4 linked regions of the Homo sapiens genome follow. The protein of the gene in region 1 interacts with the protein of each later gene in a pairwise test. Each region holds a gene or a part of one and is shown in the gene's direction. Other genes may lie near its edges.

The links.
Region 2: the proteins of TSGA10 (region 1) and ZNF410 interact in binary tests that used the Homo sapiens proteins (3 or more experiments, as listed by UniProt).
Region 3: the proteins of TSGA10 (region 1) and PLEKHA7 interact in binary tests that used the Homo sapiens proteins (3 or more experiments, as listed by UniProt).
Region 4: the proteins of TSGA10 (region 1) and CEP57 interact in binary tests that used the Homo sapiens proteins (3 or more experiments, as listed by UniProt).

Annotation. Positions count from the first base shown.
Region 1 is NC_000002.12:99,102,923-99,109,950, reverse strand, and holds part of TSGA10 (testis-specific gene 10 protein), read left to right. Parts: intron 1-394; coding exon of another isoform or gene 395-511; coding exon 512-562; intron 563-959; coding exon 960-1,118; intron 1,119-4,253; coding exon 4,254-4,424; intron 4,425-4,514; coding exon 4,515-4,592; intron 4,593-5,832; coding exon 5,833-5,984; intron 5,985-6,867; exon of another isoform or gene 6,868-7,028. UniProt on the Homo sapiens protein: Plays a role in spermatogenesis. When overexpressed, prevents nuclear localization of HIF1A.
Region 2 is NC_000014.9:73,924,847-73,931,874, forward strand, and holds part of ZNF410 (zinc finger protein 410), read left to right. Parts: intron 1-2,260; coding exon of another isoform or gene 2,261-2,382; intron 2,383-6,656; coding exon 6,657-6,695; 3' UTR 6,696-7,028. UniProt on the Homo sapiens protein: Transcription factor that binds to the sequence motif 5'-CATCCCATAATA-3', and is specifically required to silence expression of fetal hemoglobin in adult erythroid cells.
Region 3 is NC_000011.10:17,011,390-17,018,227, reverse strand, and holds the start of PLEKHA7 (pleckstrin homology domain-containing family A member 7), read left to right. Parts: upstream 1-3,813; 5' UTR 3,814-3,826; coding exon 3,827-3,912; intron 3,913-4,026; coding exon 4,027-4,103; intron 4,104-4,181; coding exon 4,182-4,239; intron 4,240-6,838. UniProt on the Homo sapiens protein: Required for zonula adherens biogenesis and maintenance. Acts via its interaction with CAMSAP3, which anchors microtubules at their minus-ends to zonula adherens, leading to the recruitment of KIFC3 kinesin to the junctional site.
Region 4 is NC_000011.10:95,793,476-95,800,503, forward strand, and holds part of CEP57 (centrosomal protein of 57 kDa), read left to right. Parts: intron 1-745; exon of another isoform or gene 746-1,058; intron 1,059-2,040; exon of another isoform or gene 2,041-2,066; coding exon of another isoform or gene 2,067-2,084; intron 2,085-5,756; coding exon 5,757-5,913; intron 5,914-7,028. UniProt on the Homo sapiens protein: Centrosomal protein which may be required for microtubule attachment to centrosomes. May act by forming ring-like structures around microtubules. Mediates nuclear translocation and mitogenic activity of the internalized growth factor FGF2, but that of FGF1.

The DNA of each region.
Region 1 (7,028 bases):
CCTCATGATCTGCCCGCCTCGGCCTCCCAATGTGCTGGGATTACAGGCATGAGCCACCATGCCCAGCCTAGTAGCATATGTTTTTCTAAAGCAAATCCATGCCATTTCTAGGATGTGTGCTAGGTCTGTGGACATTTCTGGCCTCTCTAAAATTTCTTTACCATTTTTTCTCCAAAATTATCTTTCAGTTAAAATATAGCATACCCAGAAATCCTGGAAAAGAAAGATATCTAACTGCTTTTTAAAAATTACTGATATATAATTTTTTAAATGTTGTATTTAAAAAATACCAAATTAAATGTTTTTAAGGATCCTGTTTGTTTTCAATTTCACTTAGAAAATGATGCTATAGTTTAGCTTGAAATAATGGTCTAATTTTTTCCTCTTTGGCAAGATAATTTTAGATACTGAAAAAGCACAAAATAAATCTCCTTCTAGACTTGATTCCTTTGTCAAGACTTTGGAAGCAGACAAAGATCACTATAAGAGTGAAGCTCAACATTTGAGAAAGATGATGCGAAGTAGGTCTAAAAGTCCAAGACGCCCATCACCAACTGCCCGGGTAGGTTTTATAAACTTACAAATATTTTGGAGTTTGTTGCCCAGACACTGGCTTTTATTCTTTGTTTTACCTAATTTGAAAATAATTTGTTTTGATTTGCTGTGAATTGCTGTTTCAAAGGGGTTGAGAGACAGAGGTCTCTTTGATGGCACAGTAGACTACTGATATTGGTTCTTTATCCTCAGCATAATTAGCACTTGGGAGGTAATCAGGCAAATGTGGAATAATTTGGAATGAAGCTGTTTTAAAAAGATGTGGTTTTTAAACTTATTTTTTATAATTTCCTTTCATTATATAGTCTTATTTTCTTAAATAGAAATTGGGCACTACCATCAGTAGCACCTTTCTATCAGTACTATATATCAAAGAAGATTTCAAATTCCTTATATAATTATAGGGTGCAAACTGTGATGTAGAACTTTTGAAGACAACAACAAGAGATCGTGAAGAACTTAAATGCATGCTGGAAAAATATGAGCGCCATTTGGCAGAAATTCAGGGTAATGTCAAGGTTCTTAAATCTGAGAGAGACAAGATCTTCCTTCTTTATGAACAGGTAAACTTACAAAAAACAAATTATATAAGTAATAACATTGAGTTCTAGAGTTATGTAATTCTTCTTTGAGTTTTATGAGACTGCTTAAACCTGCAAATCAAGTTAATCTAACATTTGGGGATTACATATGTTTTTAAGATATTCTTAATGAAATGTAGTACATTTCCAATACAGTAGGTATGTGAGTACACACGTATGTTATCCCCATAGCCAAAAATCATACACATGTATAAAAATAGTCTTATTTTTGGAATAAGATATGAAGAAACCGTTAAATGATAAGTTGTTATGAGTTCAAGGTAAAAAGATCAAATCCTGACCTTTTTACCTTGAACTTGCCACACCTTATCACATCACTTTAGGAACTTTTATATAATTTGCTTAATTTTAGAGAATAAAAGAAGTATGTAGTTTATCTCTGCTTTCTAGCTTAGAATTGCATAGCTTTTATTAATCAAATACCTTCTTTAACCCAACAAGTATTAAATCCTATAAATCACCCATATAACTTCTTTTAAAAGTATCACAATTTTTTAACAAATTATAGCTACTATACACAGGGTTCTAGGCTCACTACTCTAAGGGATAGAAAAATGATAAGATGCTGACCATGTTTTCCTATAAATTTACAGTCTAGTTAGGGAGATAAAGTATATTGTATTTATTGATTTTTATTAAGTGGTCTAGAAGATATTATAAGAAACAAAAGAAGTGGGCATTTTTAGATATGGTGATCAAGGAAATCTTTATTAAAAGATACAAAGTGTGAGCCCTGAAAAATGAATGGAGTTTCTATTACCCTGAAAGGGGCTAGAAGGAACAATCCAAACTAAAGGAATGGTATGAGGCAAAGGATAAAGGTAGGAAAATCAGCAGATAAATAAATTGGTTTAAGACTAGAATAGAGGGTATGTGTCAGTGGAGAAGGGAGAGAGCTAAGACTTGAAAGGTAAGATTGCACTAGAGCAGGAATCAATATACTTTTTCTGTAAGGCCCAGACAAAAAATATCTTCTGCTTTGCAAGCCATGTGGTCTCTGTTGTAACTAATCAGCCCTATTGTTGTAGGGTGAAAGCAGCTTTGGACAATACATAAATGAATAACTTTGGCTGTATTACAGTAAAACTTTATGGATACTGAAATTTGAATTTCACATCATTTTTACTTGTTTTAAAATACTCTTTTGATATTTTCCCCAACCATTTAAAAATGCAAAAATATTTCTCCACTTACAGACCTACAGGAGGCAGGCTAGATGTGGCCTGTGAGTTATATATAGCTTGCTGACTTCTGGACTAAATGGTACAGGCTGTTCAATGGGCCTTATATGGGGTTTATATTTTGCTTCATAAGCAACAAACAATCTTTTTTTTTTAAAGGCAGGCAAAATATGAACAAAGTATCATTTTTACAATTTTACAATTTTAACCTTATGGCAAATTTTTATTTCTCACATAATCTTTCTATACTGTCTTCTTATTTAACAATTTCTCCTTTGAGAGAATTGATGGAGGGAGAGACCATGGACTCCTCTTTAGAAGGCTGTTACACTAGTGCACATATAAGGCATTAAGGGACTAAGCAAGGGTGTTTCAATGGAGATAAATATAGGGACAGATGCAAAAGACCCTGTGAAGGAAGATTTGACATGATTTGCTTTTAGGAAGAAGGAGGGTTGCATGACAGTGACTAAAATTCTGTCTTGAATGACTCAGCAATGTGGTAATAAAATAAAAAATAGGAGAGTCATTGGTGGTTTGAGGAAAAAGATGTGAGTTTGTTTTTAGACAGAGTAAGATAATGATAGCACACTCAGGTCGTAATTGCCATCAGACTGTAAGAAATGTGGGACTGGAGTAGAGAGAGGCAAGAGTTAAATAGTTAGCTTTGGAAGTCATCTGCTTAGAGGTGAGCTTCGAGCCTTCAGAGTGGATGAAGTCTCTGAATGAGAAAACTGTACATAGAGGAGCAGAAACGTTAAGTTATAATATTCAAGATGCAGAAGGGAACCTTTGAAAGAGACAAAGATGACAGACAGCTAGGGAGGAACAATGTTAAAAGGGAGGAAGGAATCTCAAGAAGAAGGATGTTGTGAGCAGCAACAGACCACTGAAATATCAAGGAGAACAGGAACTGAGAAAAGACCATTATATTTGGTTAGGTCTTTAGTTGAAATTCCACAGAAGGTGGGAGGGTGGGAGCCAGGTTGTTCTGGGGTGATAGAATGGATGGTAAGGAACCATTGGCAATAGTTATAGACCATGGGACTTTTTTTTTTTAATGTGTCGCAGGAAGAAGAGACATAGGATGGTAAATTGGTCAGCAGGATCAAGTGACAGGTTTTCAAGATAAGGGAGCACTGTACATGACTGAAGGCAGGGGAGAAAGTGCCAGTGGAGAGGGTACTATTCAAGATGAGAAGAAATAATTATAATTGAGTCAGGGAGATCTTAGAAGACACTTTAGGAGATGAGGTTTGGGGTTCTGGTGAAGGCTTAGCTGTGGAAATTGGGAAGTTATATATTTTCCTTTGGGGCTTGGAGACTATCTGAATAGACAGTGATCAAAATCAAGAGGAAAAGAGACCTGTGCAGCGAACTGTGATATTAAATAATCTGCAGGTTTGGAATAGATTTGGGACCCAAGGATGGTTGAACAGACGTGCAGAGACTCTGTTGGGTTATCAGTAAGGATTGGTGGGCCTTTCTGTCAGGGCAGAAGTAGCCAAGACATAGGAATGGCATATGCATTTATATTTAGGAAGACTGAAACACTATGATAATATTCATTAAACCGGTAGTCTGTCTAAATTGTGCTGAATTTAAATTTACACTACAAAATGAATAAATGGAGTATACCAAATATATTTCTTAGCAAAACATTCTCTGTTGCAATGACTTCCTCCAAATTAATTTTATTTTAGACTTTTGGCAAAGATGTTGTAACATGAACTTCTATTTAAATATATTCATTTTCATTTATTTGTATAAGCTTATTTTAAAATAAAAGCGATACCATTACCCTGCTGCATGCATGTTGATGTAGGTTTGCATTTTAACTGGCTAGATACATAAAATTTTTTATGTTTATGTGTTCTAAAGCTTGTTCAACCAAAGTCTATGATTTAAATAATAGGCACAGGAAGAAATTACCCGACTTCGACGAGAAATGATGAAAAGCTGTAAGAGTCCTAAATCAACAACGGCACATGCTATTCTCCGGCGAGTGGAGACTGAAAGAGATGTAGCCTTTACTGATTTACGAAGAATGACCACAGAACGAGATAGTCTAAGGGAGAGGCTAAAGGTTGGAAAGGATTTTATTTACGTGAATATATGTGAAACACAAATTCAGGGATATTGAAATCACTTTATTTTGTTTTTGCTTTTTAATCAGATTGCTCAAGAGACAGCATTTAATGAGAAGGCTCACCTGGAACAAAGGATAGAGGAGCTGGAGTGTACAGTTCATAATGTAAAAAAAAAAAAAAAGAAAAGTCTCTTTTGGCTATAAACACTCAATGGCTTTCCCCTTTCTCCTTTTTCTGTATTCAGAGAAGTTATTTTATTTTTCTAAGATAGTGTTTATAGTCCTAAAATACTTAAGGTATTTTATAGTGTAAATTGTCACTTTTTCATTTGTTTATTTCCTTCTAAAAATGTGAGTAAATGTTTTTTGGTGTTAGGTTGCAAAGTATGTACTTTAAAAAAATCATTAGGCATTCATTTTCAGGGATCTTATCTACTTTCTCATCTCCATATTTTGTTAAAGATAATATTGCCAGATGTAAAGAAAATGGTTTATTCTACCTAAAGAGTGGATAAGGAGAGAAAATTATGATGAAATAAAAATTATAAGCAAAGTTTATTTAAACTAAATTTAAATGTGAAACATCACCTTTTTCCTAATCAGATTTGATATTGCTACGAATATATATTGATGATATTGTCACTATATAAACATAAGAGAATTTAACTTTCTATTACCAAATATAATTGAATATATTTATAAGTTCATCTGTACTGTTTTATTGTAATGAGTTAAAAATATGAGATAGGGGCTGGGCACGGTGGCTCATGCCTGTAATCCCAGCACTTTGGGAGGCCAAGGCGGGTGGATCACCTAAGGTCAGGAGTTTGAGACCAGCCTGACCAATATGGTGAAACCCTGTCTCTACTAAAAATATGAAAATTTGCCAGGTGTGGTGGCATGCGCCTGTAGTCCCAGCTACTTGGGAGGCTGAGACAGGAGAATTGCTTGCACCCGGGAGGTGGAGATTGCAGTGAGCCGAGATCGCGCCACTGCACTTCAACCTGGGCGATGGAGCGATACTCTGTCTCAAAAAAAAAAAAAATTACTAGACAGGAGAAAATAATTTTTGTTTTCATAATTCTACATTATATGTGTAATTTATTAATGTTGGGCAACAAATAAATTCTTTTGCAAACAGCATATTTATACTATAGTCAAATTGAACCAGATTGAAAAATATAGACTGATATACTGTGATAAGCTTTACTTTGCAGTGGCTTTTCCTTGGTCCTACTTCACAACACCTTATCTGTAAAACCTTCTACAGCAGTCAGGTCTAACCTGATAATCTCATCCTGTCAGTCTTGCCATAAACCAGTTTGTACAGAGGGAGTATGCCCTTCAGGAAGATTACTAAGGTGTTTTTAGTGATGGCAGTAACCTTGTCATTCTACTTGTATAGCTTGATGATGAACGTATGGAGCAAATGTCAAATATGACTTTGATGAAGGAAACCATAAGCACTGTGGAAAAAGAAATGAAATCACTAGCAAGAAAGGCAATGGATACCGAAAGTGAACTTGGCAGACAAAAAGCAGAGAATAATTCTTTGAGGTAAACTAAATCACCTTTAAACAACCAACAGTTTACTATAACTATAGCTCTGCTTTTTATAGTGTATTTTATAATGAAAATTATTTGTTGAGTTCAGTTTCTGAGAGGATTATTGAAAAGCAGTTGTAGGAACCCTTGGCACACAGTGAACAATTTTCCTGAGCTCAATCACAGGCTGGTAATGCCACACTTAACTAGGAATCACACTTCTAGTAATCTTACTTTACATTTGTAAAAAACTTCAACTTTTAACTGAAATAGCTTTTACAAAGCTCTTCTGGGTACAGAATATATTTGACTTTGATTGTTTACCTTTATAACTTTAAATTCTGTTTGGGGATATGAACAGTATAAGAAAACACAAAGCACAGGTTTGGCAGTTGCTTAGAAAAAGGGTGATTTAGAATATAATGAAAAGCCGTAACAGAGAAATAGGAGCACGTGATGGAGCATCTATTAATTGAATGCAAGTACTATACTTAGCCTTTCCTGTGTACTGGCATGGTTGCCGAAGATGTATCAATTGAAGCAGCCTACAGCAATAAGCTTGGGAGAATGAGTTTTTGAAGACCTCTACATGAGTGGTTTTACTTTTAGTATCTGTTGCTGTGAGAAACAGAGGTTCTACAGATTCAGTAAGGTTGAATTTCATTGCATCTATGAACATTGAAAAATAGTAATAGCTTAATATCTAGGTGACGGGTTGATCTGTGCGGCAAACCACCGTGGCACATGTTTACCTGTGTAACACACCTGCATGTTCTGCACATGTACCCCGGAACTTAAGAAAGAAAAATAGTAGTTCACACTCCTATTAATGCTGAGATTACAGGCATGAGCCACCGGGCCTGGTCTTTCTTAACAATTTTTTTTTTTTTTTTTTTTAGTCATAAAACCAATTATTTAATTGAAGCTATAAAAAAGGCAGTATAAGCGATAAAATAATTAGGAAAGAATATTTAGCATGTTTCAAAACATTTAAAATAGGAGCAGAACATTTTACAAAAAGTTGTACAGGAAATTAAATTCTAAAACTGTAAGTAC
Region 2 (7,028 bases), on another chromosome or scaffold:
TTTTGTATTTTTAGTAGAGACAGGGTTTCACCATGTTGGCCAGGATGGTCTCGATCTCTTGACCTCGTGATCTGCCCACCTCAGCCTCCCAAAGTGCTGGAATTACAGGCGTGAGCCACTGCACCCAGCCTTCTTCTTTTCATTATAACCTTTATACCACAGTAAGCTGTTGCATCATTCAAATGACTCTGCATCCTATATTGAATATTCTCCATTATTCTCTAATATCTTTGGGGGTACCCAGGATTACAGGGTTCTGGGCATACATGTTAATGCTTTTGCCAGGACTTTTCTTTTTATTGTTGTGACCCATTGTCTTTGCTTATATTTAAAGTTTTTGATCTTGATATCATTGGTTCTTTCCTAAGTCACTTTTTCTGGTAACTGCTTTGGAATGAATCATACATATCTCACTTACGGAGCCTTCCTCTTTCTCCTCCATTTTTCTTGTCTTCATTTTTCTATTTTAAAGCTTTTATTATGGAAATTTTCAGAGTACAGTGAGAGAGAGACTAGTATGATAAACCCACGTCGAAGTCGAAGTTACGGCTGAGAGCGGCAGCTCACACCTGTCTCCTAACTTTGACTTTTTTTTTTTTTTGAGATGGAGTCCCACTGTCGCCCAGGCTGGAGTGCAGTGGTGCGATCTCAGCTCACTGCAACCTCCGCCTCTCAGGTTCAAGCAATTTTCCTGCCTCAGTCTCCTGAATAGCTGGGATTGCAGGCACCCACTACCAAACCCGGCTAATTTTTGTATTTTTATTAGAGATAGGGTTTTACCCTGTTGGCCAGGCTAGTCTGGAACTCCTGACCTCAAGTGATCCACCCGCCTCAGCCTCCCAAAGTGCTGGGATTACAGGTGTGAGCTGCCGCACTTGGCCCTAACTTTGACAGTTAACTTTATGCCATGCTCAGTGGCCCATGCCTATAATCCCAGCACTTTCGGAGGTGGAGGCAAGTGGATTGCTTGAATCCAGGAGTTCAAGACCAGCCTGGGCAACATAAGACCCCTATCTCTACAAAAAATACAAAAAAAAATTAGCGGGACGTGGTGGCATGTGCCTGTGGTCCCAACTACTCGGGAGGCTGAAGTAGGAGGATCACCTAAGCCTGGGAGGTTGAGGCTACAGTGAGCAGTGACTGTGCCACTGTACTCCAGCCTGGGTGACAGAGTGAGACCCTGTCTCAAAAGACAAAAACACAATTAACTTTATACTGTTCTTGTTTTATCTCTTTCCTCCTTTTGTTGTTGTTGCTGTTTATGATGGAGTATTTCAAAGCAAATTGTAGGCATGTCATTTCTTCTGTATATATTTCAGTATATGCCTCTAACAAGATACAATATTAAAAACTATAATATCTTTACCACTTCAAACAAAGATAACAATAATTTATTGTATTCTCTAATAGTCTATGTTCTTTTTTTCCTCCCCCTCAAAAATATCTTATGGTTGGTTTGCTAGAGTCAGGATTCAAACAATGTCTGTATATTGCATTTGTTTAATACTTCTCTTAATTCTCTTTATAATAGTCCTTTTTTTTCAGTATGGTTATCTATTTAAGGAACTGGGTTTTTTGTTTTGTTTTGTTTTTGTTTTTGTTTTGAGACTGAGTCTCACTCTGTGGCCCAGGTCAAGAGTGCAGTGGCGTGATCTCGGCTCACTGCAACCTCTGCCTCCCAGGTTCAAGCAATTCTCCTGCCTCAAGTCTCCCAATTAGCTGGGATTACAGGCACCTGCCACCAAGCCCCACTAATTTTTGTATTTTTAGTAGAGACGGGCTTTTACCATGTTGGCCAGGCTGGTCCCAAACTCCTGACCTCAAGTGATCCACCCACCTCGGCCTCCCAAAGTGCTGGGATTACAGGCGTGAGCCACTGCGCCCGGCCAGGAATTGGGAGTTTTTGTCCTAAAGATTTTCCCACATTCTGGTTTTGGCTGATTGACTCCTTTTGTTAATATTAATTTCTCTATCCACTGTATTTCCTAAAAACTGGTAGTTACATTTAGAGGTTTGATTAGATTCAATTTTTCCCCCTTGGCAAGAATATTTCATAAATGGTGCTCTTGCTTCCTATTACATCTCATCAGGAGGCACATGACAATCAGTTGATCTTAAGATTGACTGGTAGGTTATGTAAAGGTTTTGGCAACCATTACTGATCATAGCCTAGATCTATTTTTCATTAAGGCCTGCAAAATGGTGATATCCTAATTCTCTTGTTCCCTCTGTGTTTATTATGATTTTTTTTTTTTTTGAGGTGGAGTCTTGCTATGTTGCCCAGGCTGGAGTGCAGTGGCACCATCTCGGCTCACTGCAACCTCTACCTCCCGAATTCAAGCGGTTCTTCTGCCTCAGCCTCCTGAGTAGCTGGGACCACAGGCAGGTGCCACCACGCCCGGCTGTATTTTTAGTAGAGACGGGGTTTCACCATGTTGGCTAGGCTGGTCTTGAACTCCTGACCTCAGGTGATCCACCCGCCTCAGCCTCCCAAACTGCTGGGATTACAGGCATGAGCCACTGCGCCCGGCCTAATTGTGATTCTTTTATACAAGAAATACTTCTCTCATCAACCATAGGGTTGCCCTGAAATCGTCATTTCAGGAAAACCATCTCGTTTTTCTTTTACCTAGTACACATTATTATTCGAGCAAGCCAACCCACAGCACCTAGCCTTTTCTTTTTTATATTTGAAACCTCAGAGCTTTTCTCTCCTGTATTGGTAAATATCTTTAAAATTCTCCACGTTACCCAAATAAATGCCAGATGTATGAAAATTTAATTCATTCAGCGGCTAGTTACCACATACCTAGTATGTGTGGGGCATTCTGCAGGGTACTAGTTATACAATAGTAAACAAAATATAGTCTCTGCCTCAAATAGCTTATAGGCAGAATTAGGACCTTCATAACTATATATATGGTGCTGGAGTTGCACTGTACAGTGAGGTTAGGATGGGAGAAGTGACCAATTAATCAACCGGCAATTTTTTTTTTTTTTTTAATTTTTTAGACGGAGTCTCACTCTGTTGCCCAGGCTGGAGTGCAGTGGCACAATCTCGGCCCACTGCAACCTCTACCTCCTGGGTTCAAGCAATTCTCATGTCTCAGACTCCTGAGTAGCTGGGATTACAGGCGGCCACCACCACACCCAGCTAATTTTTTGTATTTTTGATAGAGACGGGGTTTCATCATGTTGGCCAGGCTGGTCTCAAACTCCTGACCTTAGGTGATCCACCCGCCTCGGCCTCCCAAAGTGCTGGGATTACAGGCATGAGCCACTGCGCCCAGCCTAAACTGGCAGTTTTTAAGTGTAGTACGTTCCAGTCTTGGGAGAAGTCAGAGAATATGTTTTAGAGTTTAAGTTGAGATGGGAGGGATGAATAGACATCATCTTGATGGAGAAGTAGGAGTTGGAAGAATATAACAGGCAGAAGGACAGCAGTGTGTACAAAGGTAGAAGGTAAGGGAGTAGAGGGCCTCTGTGGAACTGTAAATAGGGTTGAGTGTGATGGGACATGGGATGAAGAGATGGGCTGGAGAGGAAAATTGAGAGCTGGAAAGATAAGCTAGTCTCTTGAAAGGTCTTACAAGGCATGATTTTATCCTGGGGGCACTGAAGAACCACTGCATGGTTTGAAGTAGGGTATGACGTGATCAGATTTGTGTATTCAGAATATCCAGTAATAGTACATTTGTTCCCTAGAACCTAGGCACAAGTCTTGGAATTGGCCTCAGAGCATCCATGTATAATAGGTGCTGCCCACTTACAGCCTCAGGGAGACAGCATAACACAGGCTGCCTAAAAAACGAAAGACCTGGGTGTGGTGGATCATGTCTATAATCCCAGCACTTTTGGAAGCTAAGGTGGGAGGATCACTTGAGGCCAGAAGTTCGAGACAAGCCTGGACAACAGAGCAAGATCCTGTCTCTACAAAAAGTTTTTTAAAAAATTATCCAGGCATAGTGGTGCATACCTGTAGTCCCAGCTACTCCAGAGGCTGAGGCAGGAGGATCAACTTGAGCCCAGGAGTTCGAGGCTGCAGTGAACTATGATTGTCCCACTGCACTCCAGCCTGGGAGAGATCCTATCCCAAAAATCAAACAAAAAAAGGAAGTATGGTCTTCACTCCAGGAAGGCACAAAACCCAGTTTCATAATGGAAGCCCAAAACACTTAGAAAAATATTAACAACACAAAAGGGAAAGTGCTGTCCTGGATGTAGCTCAAAATCCTGCACTGTCACTTTTTCCTCATGGGTTTTTGTATATTTACAAACATACCCTCTGTCTGAGCCTCACTTCTTTTGTGTTTTCTTCACTTTTAGCATTATTCTCCTCCTCGTATCACAGGCATTTCCACTGCTTATCCCCTCCTTTTCTTTCTTCACTAGTTTGGGTCCTCCAATACCTTCAGTTTTTTTTCAAGCTGTGAGGCCCTCAGGGTTCCAGGCTTAGGCCTCTTCCTCATCCAAGGTCTAGGTAATAACTTGCTATTTCTCCAGTGAGTGAGGAATGTTGATTCCTTAAGAACTTTCAGGTGCCAGAGAAGGTGAAGGCTATTTGCAACACATGTCCGTTTCACCTTTTTTGGAGATCACCAAGCAGTATGGATCAAAGTCTACTGATGAACTTGTACTTCCTGTAAATATGCTCTAAAAATAAAAATAGCTTATCAAGAATATCAGAGAACAACCAAATCTGTTATCAGAAATTTTCATGAGAGGCTGGGTGCGGTGGCTAGCACTTTGGGAGGCTGGGGTGGGAGGATCAATTGAGCTTAGGAGTTTGAGACCAGCCTGGGCAACACAGGAAAACCCCATGTCTACAAAAAATAAAATAAAATTAGCTGGTCCTAGCTACTTGGGAGGCTGAGGTGAGAGGATCACTTGGGCCCAGGAAGTTGAGGCTGTAGTGAGCCATGATCTTGCCACTACACTGCAGTCTGGGTGACAGAGCCAAACTCTTTAAAAAAAAAAAAGAAGAAAAATTACCATGGGAAAAATATCAGAAACTACAAGTCACCTCTCTGGTTCAGGTGGACAATCTCTATTTTCCCTCATTATTGTGCCACATCTGAGAATTAGATGGAGGACTCATTGCACAGGCCCAACTGGGAACCCCAGGGCTTTTGGGCTGTCATACTTACTAAAGGTCATTCTAAATGGGGCTCCATATTTACATTGAGTTCACATTCTTGAACTCAAGAACCAGTATAAGAGATTCCCAGCTAGTTTTGACTACCTCTTAGAATGCTTTCCAAATCAAGGCACAAATAGAAATTACAAATTCTATAATATTTCTCATAAAGTACCTTTGCTAAGTTTGACTGCAAAGATCTGGATCTTGGCCTCCATTAAAAACACACTATTCTTAACTTTCCTGCCACACAGCATCAAATGGAATATGTGGTTTCTTTAAGGTTTAATTTTTTCTTTAGATTTTGTTTAAAAGTCTTTAAATTCCATATAATTAAACTCTTAAAAAAAAGTTTTTTTGGTGGATACAGTGTCTTACCATGTTGCCCAGGCTGATCTCAAATTTCTGGCCTCAAGCAATCCTCCTCCCTCAGCCTCCCAAAGTGGTGGGGTTATAGGCATGAGCCATGGTGCCCAGCCCAATCATTAAATTCTACTGTATAAATTACCTTCATCCAAATTAGGATCACCAAGTAAATACATCTCAAGCTGAAGAATTTATTTGATTAGATTTTAATAAGTTGTTTTTGTTCTGAATTTTACTGAATTGTTCCCATCTCATTTTTGTGTGTCTGAAAACAGTCTCAGTCTGTCACTCAGGCTGGAGTGCAGTGCAGTGGCATGATCATAGCTCACTGCACCCTTGAACTCCTGGGCTCAAGTGATCCTCCTCCCTCAGCCTCCCAAGTAGCTAGGACTGCAAGCATGTACCACCATGCTTAATTTTTAAAATTTTCTTGTAGAGACAGGGCCTCACTGTGTTGCCCAAGTGGGTCTCAAATTTCTGGTCTCAAGCAGTTCTCCTGCCTCAGCCTCCCAAAGTGCTGGGATTACAGATGTGAGCCACTGCACCCAGCCTCATTTTGTTTTTATATTAAAATGGAAGCCAATTTCATTATTTCAAAACTCCTTTGAATAGAGCCTTGTGTATAGAGTAGAATGTTAGTGGTAGTTGCCATTATGCAGGAGTCCCTTAGGCTTATCATTCTTTTAAGCCCAAGGAACCCCTAGATCTTTTATGAGTGGGTTTCAGCTCTCATATAGTACTTATAAAGGAACAGCTCCTCTTCCTATTTCCTTCTCCTACTTGAGCCTTCAGCCTATCCTTTGGCTGACACGTATAAGATTTTGGTTCCACCATTTCTGTTTTCCCTGTAAGTTAGAGATTCCTCTGTCACTGACTGATGAGTAGGTAACTACACAAACAATAGTTTGGCTTATAGACTCAGAATATTTGATTGCCAGAGTTAAAATGCCAGCCTTATGACATGGCTAAAGTGCTGTCCCAAGGCCACAGTGACATCTATCAGTCCGTGCATGTGTTTGCTTTGGAAGTAGATAGCCTTCATTCACCCCTGTAGTGCATTCTCCATCCTCCACTCTTAATACTTTTTACTATGAATTATTTTTTCTATAATTCAACTGTAACCTATTCTAGATTTGCTTTCAATCTTTTACAGTTACTAAACCAAGGAGATTTAACTGAAAGACGGACATGAGCGTGGGTGCTGACTCCTGGAAGAGCAACTCTATCTGATCTCAAAATGCGTATACTGGGAACAGGATGCCTTAGCCCACAACAGAACCAGAATGAATCTTTGAAGGCACAAGACTCTGCTTTTGCCACTCTTCCTCTTTCCTGGTATAGAAGATGGATGTAGGAGAGCTTCTTTTCTAACTACCATCTGATCAGACAAGGAATGAAGCAATGACTGTGGGCTGGGAAACTGTACCTACCTCTCTTCCCACTGCAAATTTCTGGGATAGACCAAAAGTGAATTTGATTATGTGTTGGCTGAAGTTCTTCATTCTGACTGTTGAGGGGAGGTTTT
Region 3 (6,838 bases), on another chromosome or scaffold:
AATCCCAGCACTTTGGGAGGCTGAGGTGGGTGAATCATTTGAGGTCAGGAATTCAAGACCAGCCTGGCCAACATGGTGAAACCCTGACTCTGCTAAAAACACAAAAATTAGCTGGGCTTGGTGGCATATGCCTGTGATTCCAGCTACTCGGGAGGCTGAGGCAGGAGAATTGCTTGAACCCAGGAGACAGAGGTTGCAGTGAGCTGAGATTGTGCTGCTGCACTCCAGCCTGGGTGACAGAGTGAGACTCTGGCTCAAAAAAAAAAAAGTTTCCTTTTTAAAGAAACTGCCAAACTATTCTTCAGAGTGGCTGTACCATTTTACATCCCACTAGCAATGTATGAGACATAAAGTTTCTCTGCATACTCTTTTGTCACTATTTTTTATTTTAGTTTCTAACATATAATTTTGAAAATCAGTGATAGGCATTGAGTTTTATTGATTACATATTTTGGCATTTATTGAGATAATTTCAGTGTGTCTCTTATTGGACCTATTAATGAATTGTATTATTCTATGTATCTATATGTATATGTTTTAAATGATAAAAAGATCAAACAGTATGAAAGGGGAAACAAGGTAAAGTAAATCTCGTACCATTCCTATTAGAGTTTCCCTCCTCAGAGGCAATCACTTTACCTGATTCTTGACAGTGTAGGGACTATATCTGTATGTTAACAGTAGCATATCACATGCACAGTACTGTAGCCTGCCTTTTCACTTTATTTATTTATTTATTTAGAGATGATGTCTTGCTCTGTCACCCAGAATAGAGTGTAGTGGCCCAATCATAGCTCATTGAAGCCTCAACTTCCAGGGCTCAAGTGATCCTCCCACCTCAGCCTCCCAAGTAGCTGTAACTATAGGTATGCGCCCCATGCCTGGCTAATGTATCTTTTGTAGAGATGGAGTTTTGCCATGTTGCCCAGGCTGGTCTTGAATTCCTGGACTCAAGCCATCCTCATGTTTCAGCCTCCCAAAGTACTGGGATTATAGGTACAAGCCACTGCATCTGGCCCATTTAATATCTTACAGACCATTCTATATCAGTACGTAGGGATCTATTCTCATTCTTTTTTACAGCTTGCATAGCATTCTGTTTTTGTTGTTGTTGTTGTTGAGGAATGTGCCAGTTTAATCAACCAGGTCTTTTTTGATAGACATTAAGGTTATTTCCAGTTCTTTGTAATTACTGACAATGCTGCAGTGAATACTCTAGTACACTGGAATTTGTGCCCCATGTAAGCACTAATGTAGGATAAATTCCTGACATGAAATTGCTAGGTCAAGACATTGAGGTTGGAATAGCTGTGCCAAATTGCCTTCGAAGAGGCTCAAACATTTTAAAGTCCCATCAACAATGAACAAGAATGTCTTTCTCTACAATATCTTTTCTTTCTTTCTTTTATGAGACAGAGTTTCACTCTGTCACCCAGGCTGGAGTGCAGTGGCGTGATCTCTGCTCACTGAAACCTCCACCTCTAGGGTTCAAGTGATTCTCCTGCCTCAGCCTCCCAAGTAGCTGGGATTACAGGCATGCACCACCATGCCCAGTTAATTTTTGTGTTTTTAGTAGAGACAAGGTTTCACCATGTTGGCCAGGCTGGTCTCGAATTGCTGATCTCAAGCGATCCACCCGCCTCAGCCTCCCAAAGTGCTGGGATTACAGGCGTGAGCCACCACGCCTGGCCAATATCTTTTCTAATTTATCTTTTCCAATCTGACATCTAAAAAAATAGTATTTCACCGTAAGTTGCAGTTCTTCTATTATGAAGTGGCTCAGTATCTTTTCATTTGCTTAAAAGTTATCTGTATTACTTTTCTATTAACTGTGGGTTCATACCCTTTGCCCATTTAATGTATTATTTAAAATCAATGTTTAGCTAGCAAAACACCGCTTTCCTATTTTCATTTGCTCAACAACCTCCTCAGAGGCAGGAGGTTCCTTCAGACAGGTGTCCCCCGTCCTCTGCAACCAGTTACCTCTTCTAACTCATAAATGCCTCCTTCCCCAACACCACTGTCTGTTCCCAAGGAAGGGCCCCTTTATGGTCTCATCAACATCTCACAGCCCTCCCAAAATTATGTGCATGCTCTCCCATCCCTCCCCTCTGGAGTGCTCTTTTCCCAGTCAAACCTAACCAGTCCTTCAGGGTCCAGCCTAATTCCACCTGTTTGGGCACCTTTCTGAATAACTAGTGCTCACATTGCATACAGTCTCACTTTCAGGCGCGCCTCCTCCCATCAATCAGAGCCTATGTCCCGAGAAGGCTGGGCCTGACAACAGCTGGAGCCCAGCTGCTGCTCTGTCTTTGCTCAGTGTGTGTGTGTGTGTGTGTGTGTGTGTGTGGCCGGGAGTCTGAGTGTGGAGTATGTTTCATTCACTCATCCTGCAGTTTTTTTTTTTAGACTGAGTCTCGCTGTTGCACAGGTTGCAGGGCAGCGGCGCGATCTCGGCTCACTGCAACCTCTGCCTCCCTGGTTCAAGCGATTTTCCCGCCTCAGCCTCCTGAGTAGCTGGGATTACAGGCGCCCGCCACCACGCCCGGCTAGCTTTTGTATTTTTTTGGTAGAGACGGGGTTTCACCATGTTGGCCAGGCTGGAATAGAACTCCTGACCTCAAGTGATTCACCCGCCTCGGCCTCCAAGAGTGCTGGGATTACAGGCCTGAGCCACCGTGCCCCACCCCATCCTACAGTTATTGAATGCGTAATGCATACATGAGTCAGGTGCTGTTCCAGGCATTGGAGACCAGGCAGTGTATGAGGTAGATCAAAGCCCCTTCTCTCATCCAGCTGACATGTTGGAACTAATATACAACAAACAAGACAAACACAAATATCAATTAAATGTAAACAAGTAATGAAATAGCGAGGGAAGGAGGGGAAGGATTTTCTTTGCAGAGGGCTCAGGGAGGGCTCCCCGAGGAGATAAGATAGGAGTAAAGACCCGAATATGAGAGGGTGCCGCCACTGCAAAGAGCTTTGCAGGGCCCCCTAGAGGCCCCGCCTGGCCACCGCTCTTCCAGAGATGGACGTGCTGCCGAGCCCTCAAAACCCCTTTTTTCTGTTACTTGACAGAAACTGAAGGCAAGAGCTTGCGATCCCTGCAACCTCAGTGGTGTGTGGCGGTAACCCTGCTCCCTCCTGTTTCACATCCCAGCTGAAAACTTGGGAAAATGAAATCGCGCTCGGCCTGCCGTTGATAGAGCACCTACTACATGCCATGGTCCGGTTAAGCACTTTATGCGATTGTTACTTCATTTAATCTACACAACAATCCCGTGTGGACTCGATTAACCTTACAGGGGAAGAGAAGGAGGCTGGGAATATGGCAGGAACCTGAGTGTTAACTTGGTTCACACACAAGCGGAGTTCCCGGGTCGGGAAGTTCTGTGGTGCGGGTCGGCTGGGGTTTACTGAGCGTTCGGGCGCTCGCCGTTTTCGGAGTTGGTCGGGTCCAACCGCGCGCCCCGAAGCTGCCCAGGCGCGCCCGCCAGCGGCCCCCGCCAGCGGCCCCCCGCGCCGCCCGGGTCTCCCGGCCTCGGGGGCAAAGGGGAGCGCCGGTGCCAGCAGGCTGGGGGCGGGGAAGGCTCGGGGACAAAGGCCGCGGGCACTGCGCTGGGTTGGCCGGAGCGGCTGCGAACTCCGGGCGCCAGGACCCGGCCGGGCGGTCGCTCCCTCAGGAGCCCGCGCCTGGATGGAGCGCCTCGCGGCGCCGCCGGGCCACGCGCAGGCCGAGCCCCCGCCACCGCCCCCGCCTCCGCCCCTGCCCGCGCCCCCGCCCCCTCCCCCCCACCCCGCGGCGGCTCCGCGCTCGGCGAACATGGCGGCGGCGACGGTCGGGCGGGACACTTTACCTGAGCATTGGTCCTACGGGGTGTGCCGGGATGGCCGCGTCTTCTTCATCAAGTGCGGCGCGAGGACCCGGGGACGCGGGGACGCGGGTGGGGGCGCGGGGGCGGGGGCCGGGCGGGCACCCGGCGGGCTGTGGCGGCGCTAACAGGTGCACCTCTCTGCCCGCAGTGACCAGCTCCGCTGCACGACCTGGCTGCATCCGCGCACCGGGGAGCCCGTCAACTCGGGCCACATGATCCGCTCAGGTGGGCGCCGGGCCGGCGGGTGGGGGGCGCGCGCAGCGGCGGCCCAAGTTTGACCCGACTTTTCTGGCGTTTCCGCAGACCTGCCCCGCGGCTGGGAGGAGGGCTTCACGGAGGAGGGCGCCAGCTACTTCATCGAGTGAGTGAGTGGGGCCGCCGCGCTCGCACCTGTGCCGCGGGGGGGGGGTCCCTCCCCGTTCCCGCCGGGCGCCCCGCCCTTCCTCTGCTCCCGCCGGCCCGGGCTCGTTGGCGCGCGCTGCGCCGCGGCCACACTCAACGTTTTGTGTGCCCAAGTTGTTTGGCGGCCTCCGAGAGGAAGGCGGTGGGGGCCGCACCTACGCTGGGGACCTGGGCCGGGGGGGAAGAGGCCGCAGACTCTGCGCCCTGGACCTTGCAATCCGGCTGGATTCGGGTGCTGGTGTGCGGGCTGGGCACGCCTCCCCTCTAGGGTCTGGGGCTGCGCCCCGCCGGGAGAGGCGAGTGCCGGGACCTGGATGGGCTCGGGTGGGAGGAGTAGAACGAGAAGTTCTGTCCTGGTGTGGGCCTGCGGGGTTGGAGTGGGGAGAGGGAGAGACTAGGGGAATCTCGCTTAGGAGGACGCCCCCTCTCCCGCCGCAGGCTCTGGGATGGTCTTGGAGAGTCGGAACCTCGCCCCCGGCCTCCATCCACTGCGCGGGCCTGCGGGGAGGGAGGGGGTGGGGAAGGGAACTGGTCAACCAATGACTTTCCTCGAGCGCTCCGCGTCTCTTCGGCCGGAGCTGAACCGGGGGATTGCTGGTGCTTCCGTTAGTCCACGGGCGACTTTTCCGCAAAAGCCCCGGAGTGTTGGCGCACCAGCCAGGTTACCCTGGGTCTGTAGGATCAGTCCATGTCAGATTGGGGCGCAGTAAGTGAAGGCGCGGGTCAGGCTCCTATGCCAGTACAGGCTTTGCTTTCCCACTCCGGCGGGAGTCTGTGTTGCAGCGTGTTTCCCTCTGCCTGCTGAGCTCCGGGAGGCCAGACACTGCCTTTGACCCCTTGCCCCAGTGCCGGACAGCAAGTAGGCACTCGGTAAATGTTTGTTCACTGAATGAATCAGCTCGCCAAAGGTCTGGACGGTGGTCTGACTAGTACTGACTGGGTGTACCTCGGCGACTGTGAGTCAGAACTACTACTGTTAGGAATAAAGCAGCCTATTTCAAGAAAACCCCGGAACCTCCTTTTCTGGTTTGGGTTCTTGCATAATAGTTGAAAATACTGATGGGTGAGATTTACAGACCTAAGGACTAGGGCCTTGCTGCGGTTCTATTGCCCTGCCTCATATGTGTGTATGTGAAGTTGGGGAGTTGGCTGGGGCCATCAGAGTCTTGCTGTCAGTGGGCCTCTCTGGCTCATAACTGCATCAGTTGATGTTATTACAATTTTCCTGTGTGCCACACGTTCACACGTTGTTCTAGGCATTGGGAACAAAAAACAGAAAAGTTCTAGGTGCTCATGGAGCTTGCAATCTAATAGGAGAGGGAAGGGAGTAGAAAATAAGTAAAAAACACAAATAATAATATCAGATCGTGGTTACTACTGTGCAGAAAGTTAAAATAAGGTGATGTGACATGGAGTGACTGGGTGGCTTGGTTGTACTGGGAGATCGGGATGGTGTTTCTGAATAGGCAACATTTAAAGTAAAATTTGAATGACAAGAAGGAGACATCATGTGATGATGAGTTGGCAAAGCATTTCGGGAAGAGCGAACAGCCAGGGCAAGGGCTTAAGGCAGAAAAGAGCTTGGAGTTTAAGGAGCAGGAAGGCTGGAATGTGGTGCACAAGGGAGAAAGTGGCATGAGGAGAGGTCACAGGTAGGAGAAAGGTAAATGCCGCAAAGCTTTGTGAGCCGGGGTGAGGAATTTTCATACTTTATTCTAAGCCCAGTGAAACGTCATTGGAGGGTTTTAAGCAGGGAAATGGCATGATTTGGTGTGTGTTTTTAGAACGATCACTGTGAGGAGATTGGATTGTAGGTGGCCACTGCAGGGGGAGGCAGGAGAGCAGCTGAGGCTGTTGCCCTCTTCCAGGCAGGAGTTAGAAGTGGCTTGCCTGAGGGTGGTAGCACAGTAGACAGGGAGTAGTGGTCACATTCAGGCTGTGTTTAGGAAATAGGCTCTTCACACCTTCATGATGGACTGAATAGTCTGTGGGAGAAAGAGAAGAGGCAAAGATGACTCCTCAGGGCTTGGGCACCTGAGTGGATAGCATTCATATCGTTGAGATGGGAAGAGCCGGTTTGGGGTGGAGGAGAATCATGAGATCTTGTTTTGCCATCTTACATTTGAGATATGAGTATGTCAGATAGTGTGATCTGAAGCTTGGTGGGGAGAGAGGACAGAAGAGACCCATTGGGTATAATAGATGTTATTCAAGGCCATGGGATTAGATGAAATCCCCTAGGAAGAGAGTACAGACAGAAGAGAGATGTTCTGAGGCTTTGGATGGTCAAAGCAGTGTTTAGAGGGGTGAGAGGTGAAGCCAGCAAGGAGACTGAGAAGGACTGAGAAGGTAGGAGAAACCCCAGGAGAATGCATGGTCACAGAAGCCTTAAAGGACAAAATCTGACTGGAGTAGGTGGAAGATAAAACACGGGGTGAAGACAGGGAGTCAGTTAGGCAAATCTTCCAGGTAGTTTTGTTGCAAAGTGGAGTTGAGACATTAGCCGGTAATTGGAGAGGATGTGGGTTTGAGGGAGGGTTCTTTTTTTTGGTGGGAGA
Region 4 (7,028 bases), on another chromosome or scaffold:
GCTATCATACATTTTATAATATTAAATATAAGATTTACTTTTTGAGAATAATAAAATGAATACCTTCATGTTCCTCTGTGTCTTCTTTCTCCTTCCCACACCCACCCACTACCACGTATTTTAAGATTATAATGTATGGTATTTATATAGGACTACCTGGCAAGGCATAATCCTTAAAGACCCTTTTCATGCATTAACTCATTTAATCCTCACAATAACCTTCTGAGATTGGCATTAATATTTCCTTTTTCAAATGAGCAAAATGAGGCACAGAGAGGTTGAGTCAAAGTTCTCTAGCTAGTAAATGACAGTATCTTAATGGGCTTTGGATTTAATGGGTTTTGCTGTTCATTTGTTTGCCAGATATTAGAAACAATCTTGTATTCATTGTTATATGCTGTACATGGCAAATGTTTCTCTAGAGTGCAGTTCTCGAAGTATGGTCTCACAACCCTTGGAGATCTCCAAGACCCTCTCAGAGTCTACAAGATCCTTCTGTAATGACCACGTTTGTGGTAGACTAGATCTTTAATAAGTCAAACAAAATAACATATCCAACAGAGCGAATGCAGAACTAGATAAGAGAATCCAGCATTCTTTTTTTAAAGCAAACATTAAAGAGATCTGCAGAAATGTAAAATAGTGCCATTCTTTTCACTAGATCTTTTAGAGTGTAAAGGGGTCCTGAGAGAAAAAGTTTGCAAGGGGCAACTCTAGGGCAGTGATTTTTCTTTTTTTTTTCCAGACCAGAGGCTGGGCTCTGGATTACAGCTCAGTAGTGGGTCATGGAATATGTACTGTGACTCAACCCGTATCATTTTCAAGAAAGAAGAGAGAGAAAATCGTTCAGCAAATATAACTGAATGAATTATCTGGTTCACAGAGTATGTGCGTCTTCAGCTTTACTCGGTCATACTAAATTGTTTTACCAAGTGATTATACCAACAACCCTCTTTATTTTATGTCCTCTTAAATGGATGGTATCGTCCCACTTGTAAATTTTTGCTGTGTGTGTGAAATGGTATCCTATTTTCTGATTTGTGCACCTCTTATCATTGGTGAGTATGCACCCTGTTTTTTTCAAACCTTTACTAGTGTGTGTGTGTGTGTTCTTCTGTGAAATACCTGTTCATGTCCTTTGCCTGTTTTTGTCTGTTAAGACTGTTCCAGAGACATCTTGGCTGGTCTTTGATATCTTTCGATTAATAGTTGTTGTTACTTTTAATGTAAAATTTGTTAGTCTTTTTATAATTAGTGATTTCTGTTTAAGAAATTCTTCCTTTCTCCAAGGCCTTGGTTGTATTCTTCTATATTTTTTTCCTACTTATTTTAAAGTTGAAGCCTTTTATGTCCTTAATTTACTTGAAATTAATTTGTATGCTGTGAGATAGGGATCCAGTGTAACGGTTTTACTTAAAATACACAATTGTCCCCACACTACTTGTTGAAAATTCATCCTATCCCCAATGGTTTGCAATATGTTCATTTCCATATGTGTATGGGTGTGTTACCTGGCTCTTTGTCCCTTTGTTGTATTTGTCTCTCCTACTTAGATACCCACTTGGAGGTGGGGGGGTCATTTACCTCCTTGTTACTCAAGAGAAATATTAGCTATTGTTGGTCCTTTGCTTTTCTTCAGTAGAAATTCTGGAACCTGCTGTTGGAATTTTGGTTTAGATTTTATTGAATTTCTAGCTTAATTTGGGTGTAACTGATACGTTTAGGATATTGACCCTTCTGTCTGAATGTTATGTTACTCCATTTATTTAGAACTTTAACATTTTTCAGTACTTGTATAATTTCATGTCTTGTATATTGTTCAGTTTATTTCTAGTTTTTAATTGTGTGATATATATTTTCATAAGTTGCATTTTCTAATATATAAAATTACTGACTCTTACATATCTATTTTACTCAGCAATCTTCCAGACTTAATTCTCATAATTGAGGATTTTTTGTTTTGTTCTATTTAGTCATGATACGAAATTGGGATTCTTCCTTTTCAATCTTAATAGCTGTTATTCTTTTTTTTTTTCTTAGTGTGCAGACTAGGGAAATGAAGTACAATGTTGACCAGAATTGATGTAGGTATCTTTGTCTTACTCCTGATTTTAAAAGGAATATTTCAAGTTTTCCACCATTAAGTATGTTTGCCATCTTTTCTTGTAAAACTTCATATTATCATAAGGAAGTAAGTTTTTTAAAAAATAATGGCTGGATGTTGAATTTTATTGAATGCTTTTCTACATTTGTTGACGATCGTATTGATATTTAGTTTGGAACTGTTGCATTGATTGCACTGCTCAGAGCTGTACATCATGTTCCTCCACCATTGGACCTTGACTTCTCCAATTTTATTTCCTCAACATGTGTACACAAACTCTTTTTTTCAGCTAAACTGATGTATTCATTAACCTGGAAATAATTGCCTTTTATATCCATTTCTAGCTTGCCTATCAGAATACATGTCAATCTACAAGACCCAGTATCGATTTCAGCACTAATAAAGACCTTCCTTTACCATACTGTTTTGAAGCAGTGTTCTGTTGAATGCATCTGAATTTAATTTGCACTTAGTCTCTATTACATCCAATTTACCAGTTCCCACCTACTGTTTTGTATTTGAGTTTTATCTAGGTAATATCTTGCAGCTGTGTTGCATGTGCCACTTATAAAGAAAGCAAGTAATATGCATTTTTAAATTATGCTTCATACTTCACACAGTGTCATAAAAAGATGTTCAATAAATATTTGAATTATGTGTTCCTAAATGAGATATTTGCCCTAAGAACTAAAGGCTGCAGGAAAAGCTAGTGATCAGGTTAAACATTTTGCCTTTAATCCTGAAAGTTTCTCCTACAATCATATTTTGGTTGGAATAATTTTTACTGAATGCTTAGGGTCATGGAGAGATTAGTGGATTGGGAGTTAGAATTGGGCTCCTTTCTACGCAGCCTTCCTATGATATTTGTGCTATTTGTTAAATATAAAGAAGCCCAAAAGCTTTTGGTGATCTCTTAAAGGGTTGTAGTGATTTTGTTGAAAAGGATAATCTTTTATAAGTAATGTGCAGTTTCCTGTTTTGCGGAGGAAATGTATAGTTAATATTCAACAGATTTATTGAACATAATAAAACTCCTTTATTAGAACTTAATTTCTCCAGCAAAAATTCTACACCAACTGGGTGTACTACAATTATTTTAATTCTGACACTGCCCAGATGTTGCTCAGACCCCCATACATTAAGGGGCTCCGTTTCACAAGACTGCCTGCCCCCAAGTCAGTCAGAGTTCGCAGAGCATCTGCATTTCTGCTCAGCTGACTACAAATTATGGGATTCCTGCAGCTTTCCAAGAACGGCTCACAGTACTCAGGAAAGACTGTTCTTAAGCAATTTCAGTTTTATAAAGGACACAACTCAGAAACAGCCAAATGGAGGAGACATAGGGCAAGGTGTGAAAGGGCTTCTGTATCCTCTGGTGCAGCACCTTCCCAGCATATCAGTATGTTCAACAATCTAGAAGCTCCCCAAACCTCATTATTCAAGAGTTTTCATTGAGCTTTCATTACATAAATACATAATTGAGTAAATTATTGTCCGCTGGTCACTGGGCTCAATCTGTCCCTTACCTCCCCTAAGGTCAGGGCCTAGGGCTGAAATTTGTGACTCTTCCCCCCCACCCCACCCCCCTCCCAACACACACACACACAGACGGAGTCTCACTCTCTTGCCTAGGCTGTAGTGCAGTGGCCCAATCTTGGCTCACCACAACCTCCACCTCCTGGGTTCAAGTGATTCTCCTGCCTTGGCTTCCTGAGTAGTTGGGATTACAGGGCACACCCCCACACTTGACTAATTTCTTTGTATTTTAGTTAGAGACAGAGTTTCACCATGTTGGCCAGGCTGGTCTCGAACTCCTGACCTCAAGTGATCCGCCCAGCTCGGCCTCCCAAAGTGCTGGGATTACAGGCATGAGCCACCATGCCTGGCTGAAATCTGTAGCTCTTTATAATCTAGTGGTTGGTTTTTCTGGCAACCAGCTTCCAGAAGATGCCTTCAAACCTGAAGCTACCTAGGTGCCCTACCTTGAGTCCCTTCATCAGCCTAACAAGGATACCCTATCACTTAAGAAATTCTAGGAGTTTTTGAATCTGTATCTGAAACCAAGGACAAAAGACTAAATATATTTTTTATTATACCACAGGGCATACAGATAATAAAAATGTATATGTCATGAGGAGTGATATAAAATAGTAAAGGGCAAGCCCACTAACATACAAAATGTAGAACAGAGGTAGTTCCATTTGGGGAACTAGTTTGTTAGTTAATCACATAGTTAATGGGATTCCCCTGACTGGGCAGAGGGTGGTCGGCAAGTCACTTAATATTTTTGAATATTAAATGATAGGATTCTGGTGGGTTGTAAATAACCAATGAAAACTTGAGGTTCTCTGTGACATTTAAAATTAAGCTATGCAGTAATTGAGGATGCTTTGCAAGACCTTTGACAATATTATAAAGAATTGAAAACTCATCCTATTTTCCAGTTACCTGTAAAACCAGATGCCAATTTGCCATTAAGTTTGGAAAATGACAAATACTAGTCTTTGTTATATATGAACATACTATAGTAGACTTAGCACTTATTTATTTGAGTACCACTTTTAAGACTTGGCCCTACCCTCCTAAGCTCTTTGTCCCCACTTTTGATTGTCATAGCCATAGTGTGTTTTATATTTATATAAATAGAAAATGTTTTATATTTGCTTTCTTAAATCACCTGGAAATTTGCATGATTTTTAACATGGAAGTAAAATCTTTAATTTTAAATAAGATTTAAATACAGTGCAGGTATTTCGATAGCCTTTGTTTCAGGAGATTGTTTACTGTTTTAAATATTCATTGTGCTCTTGTACTTTTATGAACACGGATTATTCTGGTAAATGTAAATCTTCAAAGGTAAGAATTGAAAAACATAGTTTGCTGTGGCCGTTTGAGGAAGGAAAGTGGATGAACATTTTGAATAGCTGGTAGTCATATCTTCCACCTTAGCCCTCAGCTTCTTAGTTACTTCCCCCAGTCTAGGACCATCTGTCAGTAGGAAGTCGCCTACAACAAATAAAACTCCACAGTTAGCATCTCCTGGGTTGAAATTATTATGTGGAATCCTAAATTTAACAGAATCTCATTCATGACAGAATGGTGTACTGTGGAAATAAAGTTTTATGTTTGAGTGTTTGATGGGCCTTAATGTTTTCTAATTATTTTCTTTTTTGTTAATTAAATGTAAAGTATTTGAGGCAAGGACAGTGCCTTATTTTCTTTCTGGAGTTTTGAATACTATAAATATTCAAGTAGTAGTTTGTGGATGGGGAATAGAGTAATTCAGTCATTTGTAGCAGTTTCTGGTCCTGTAAAAATAATGTTTTTATTTTTCTGAACGTATATTTCACAGTATATATTTTTAACTGCGGTATTTACATTCATTGTATCATTTAAGTATTTCTGCACAGCATTTGTATTCAAGTTGTATGAACATTATTTTCTTCTTGTGTCTGGCATATGGCTATATTCAGACTAATATGAAACACTTTAAAAGTTGTATTTCTTTAATGATTGAATTGTATTGTTTCTAGTCAGTGGATTTTTTCTGTTGTCTGTATGGACAGTCAATCTCAGTCATAAATATTTGTGATTTAAATCTGCTATTTGTGGTTCACACTTTTGAAAGGTAATTTGTGTCTTTATTTTTTAGAACAGCTTTGCTGAGCCATCAAGGTCTAATGGAAGCATGGTTCGGCATTCTTCATCTCCATATGTAGTATATCCTTCGGATAAGCCTTTCCTTAATAGTGATCTACGACGCTCCCCAAGTAAGCCTACACTTGCCTATCCAGAAAGCAACAGCAGAGGTAATCGAGCCTAACGAAATAAATGTTATTTGTGTTTTCTTGCTGCTTTAAAATTCTTAACTTTGTCCTCCATTATTTTGCCATTAGAGGAAAATATATTTCCCCTTTGCTTCCAGTTTCAGCCCCCAGAAAATATTATGCTTTTCTTGTATTCCTTATATTGATTGTTGAACATCATCATCCACCAAATTACTGATGCTAAAACACTTTGAGTCATCAGTGACTGCTCTGTAATCCCCACTATTAGTCCGGAATGAAGACCTTTTTTTGCTTCTGAAATATACCAAAAGCATACTGTTTTTTCTGCCTTTTTGTGTTCTCATTGCTTTGGTTCAGGCTTTCATCATCTGTAGCCCAGATGTTCATAGTACATTCCTCATTAATCTCCCTGCCTGTTTTCTCCTCCTCATCCCCAGTTAACAACATTTCTGTCATTTGTCATTATCCATCATCTCTCCCACAAAATTAAAGCTTTAGCATCTCTTCATAGCTTACATAATAAATTCTTAATTTTTCATAACCTAGACCCTATATGCCTCACCAGCTTCATCCCTAACTTGTCTTCTGTTTTTTCCTTTCCCATCCTTTGCTCTGGCTACTTTGAAATACATTTATTCCTGGAACCTGCCATCTGTATTAGTTTTCTTGTCGCCTTAACAAATTGCCATGAACTTAGCTTTAAATATTTGTTATCTCAGTTTTCTGTAGGTCGGAAATCTGTGTAGGCTTATCTGGGTCCTCTGTTTAGAGCCTTACAAGGCTGAAATCAAGGCTTTGCTTGGGGCTCTGTTCTTTACTAGAGGCTCTGGGGAAGATCTGCTTCCAAGCTCATTAAGATTCTTAGCCAAATTCAGTTCCTTGTCATTGCAGTACTGAGATTCTGTTGCTTTGCAGACTTTTACTTGAGGACAGTCTTTGCTCCTAGAAACTGTCCTCCTTCCTTCATGTTTCCCTTATTGTCTCCTACGGTAACAGTAGGTAGTCTCTCATGTTTCTTTTTTTTTTTTATTTTTTATTGTTTTTTTGGAGACAGAGTCTCACTCTGTCACCAGGCTGGAGTGCAGTGGCGGGATCCCGGCTCACTGCAACCTCCGCCTCCTGGATTCAAGCTATTG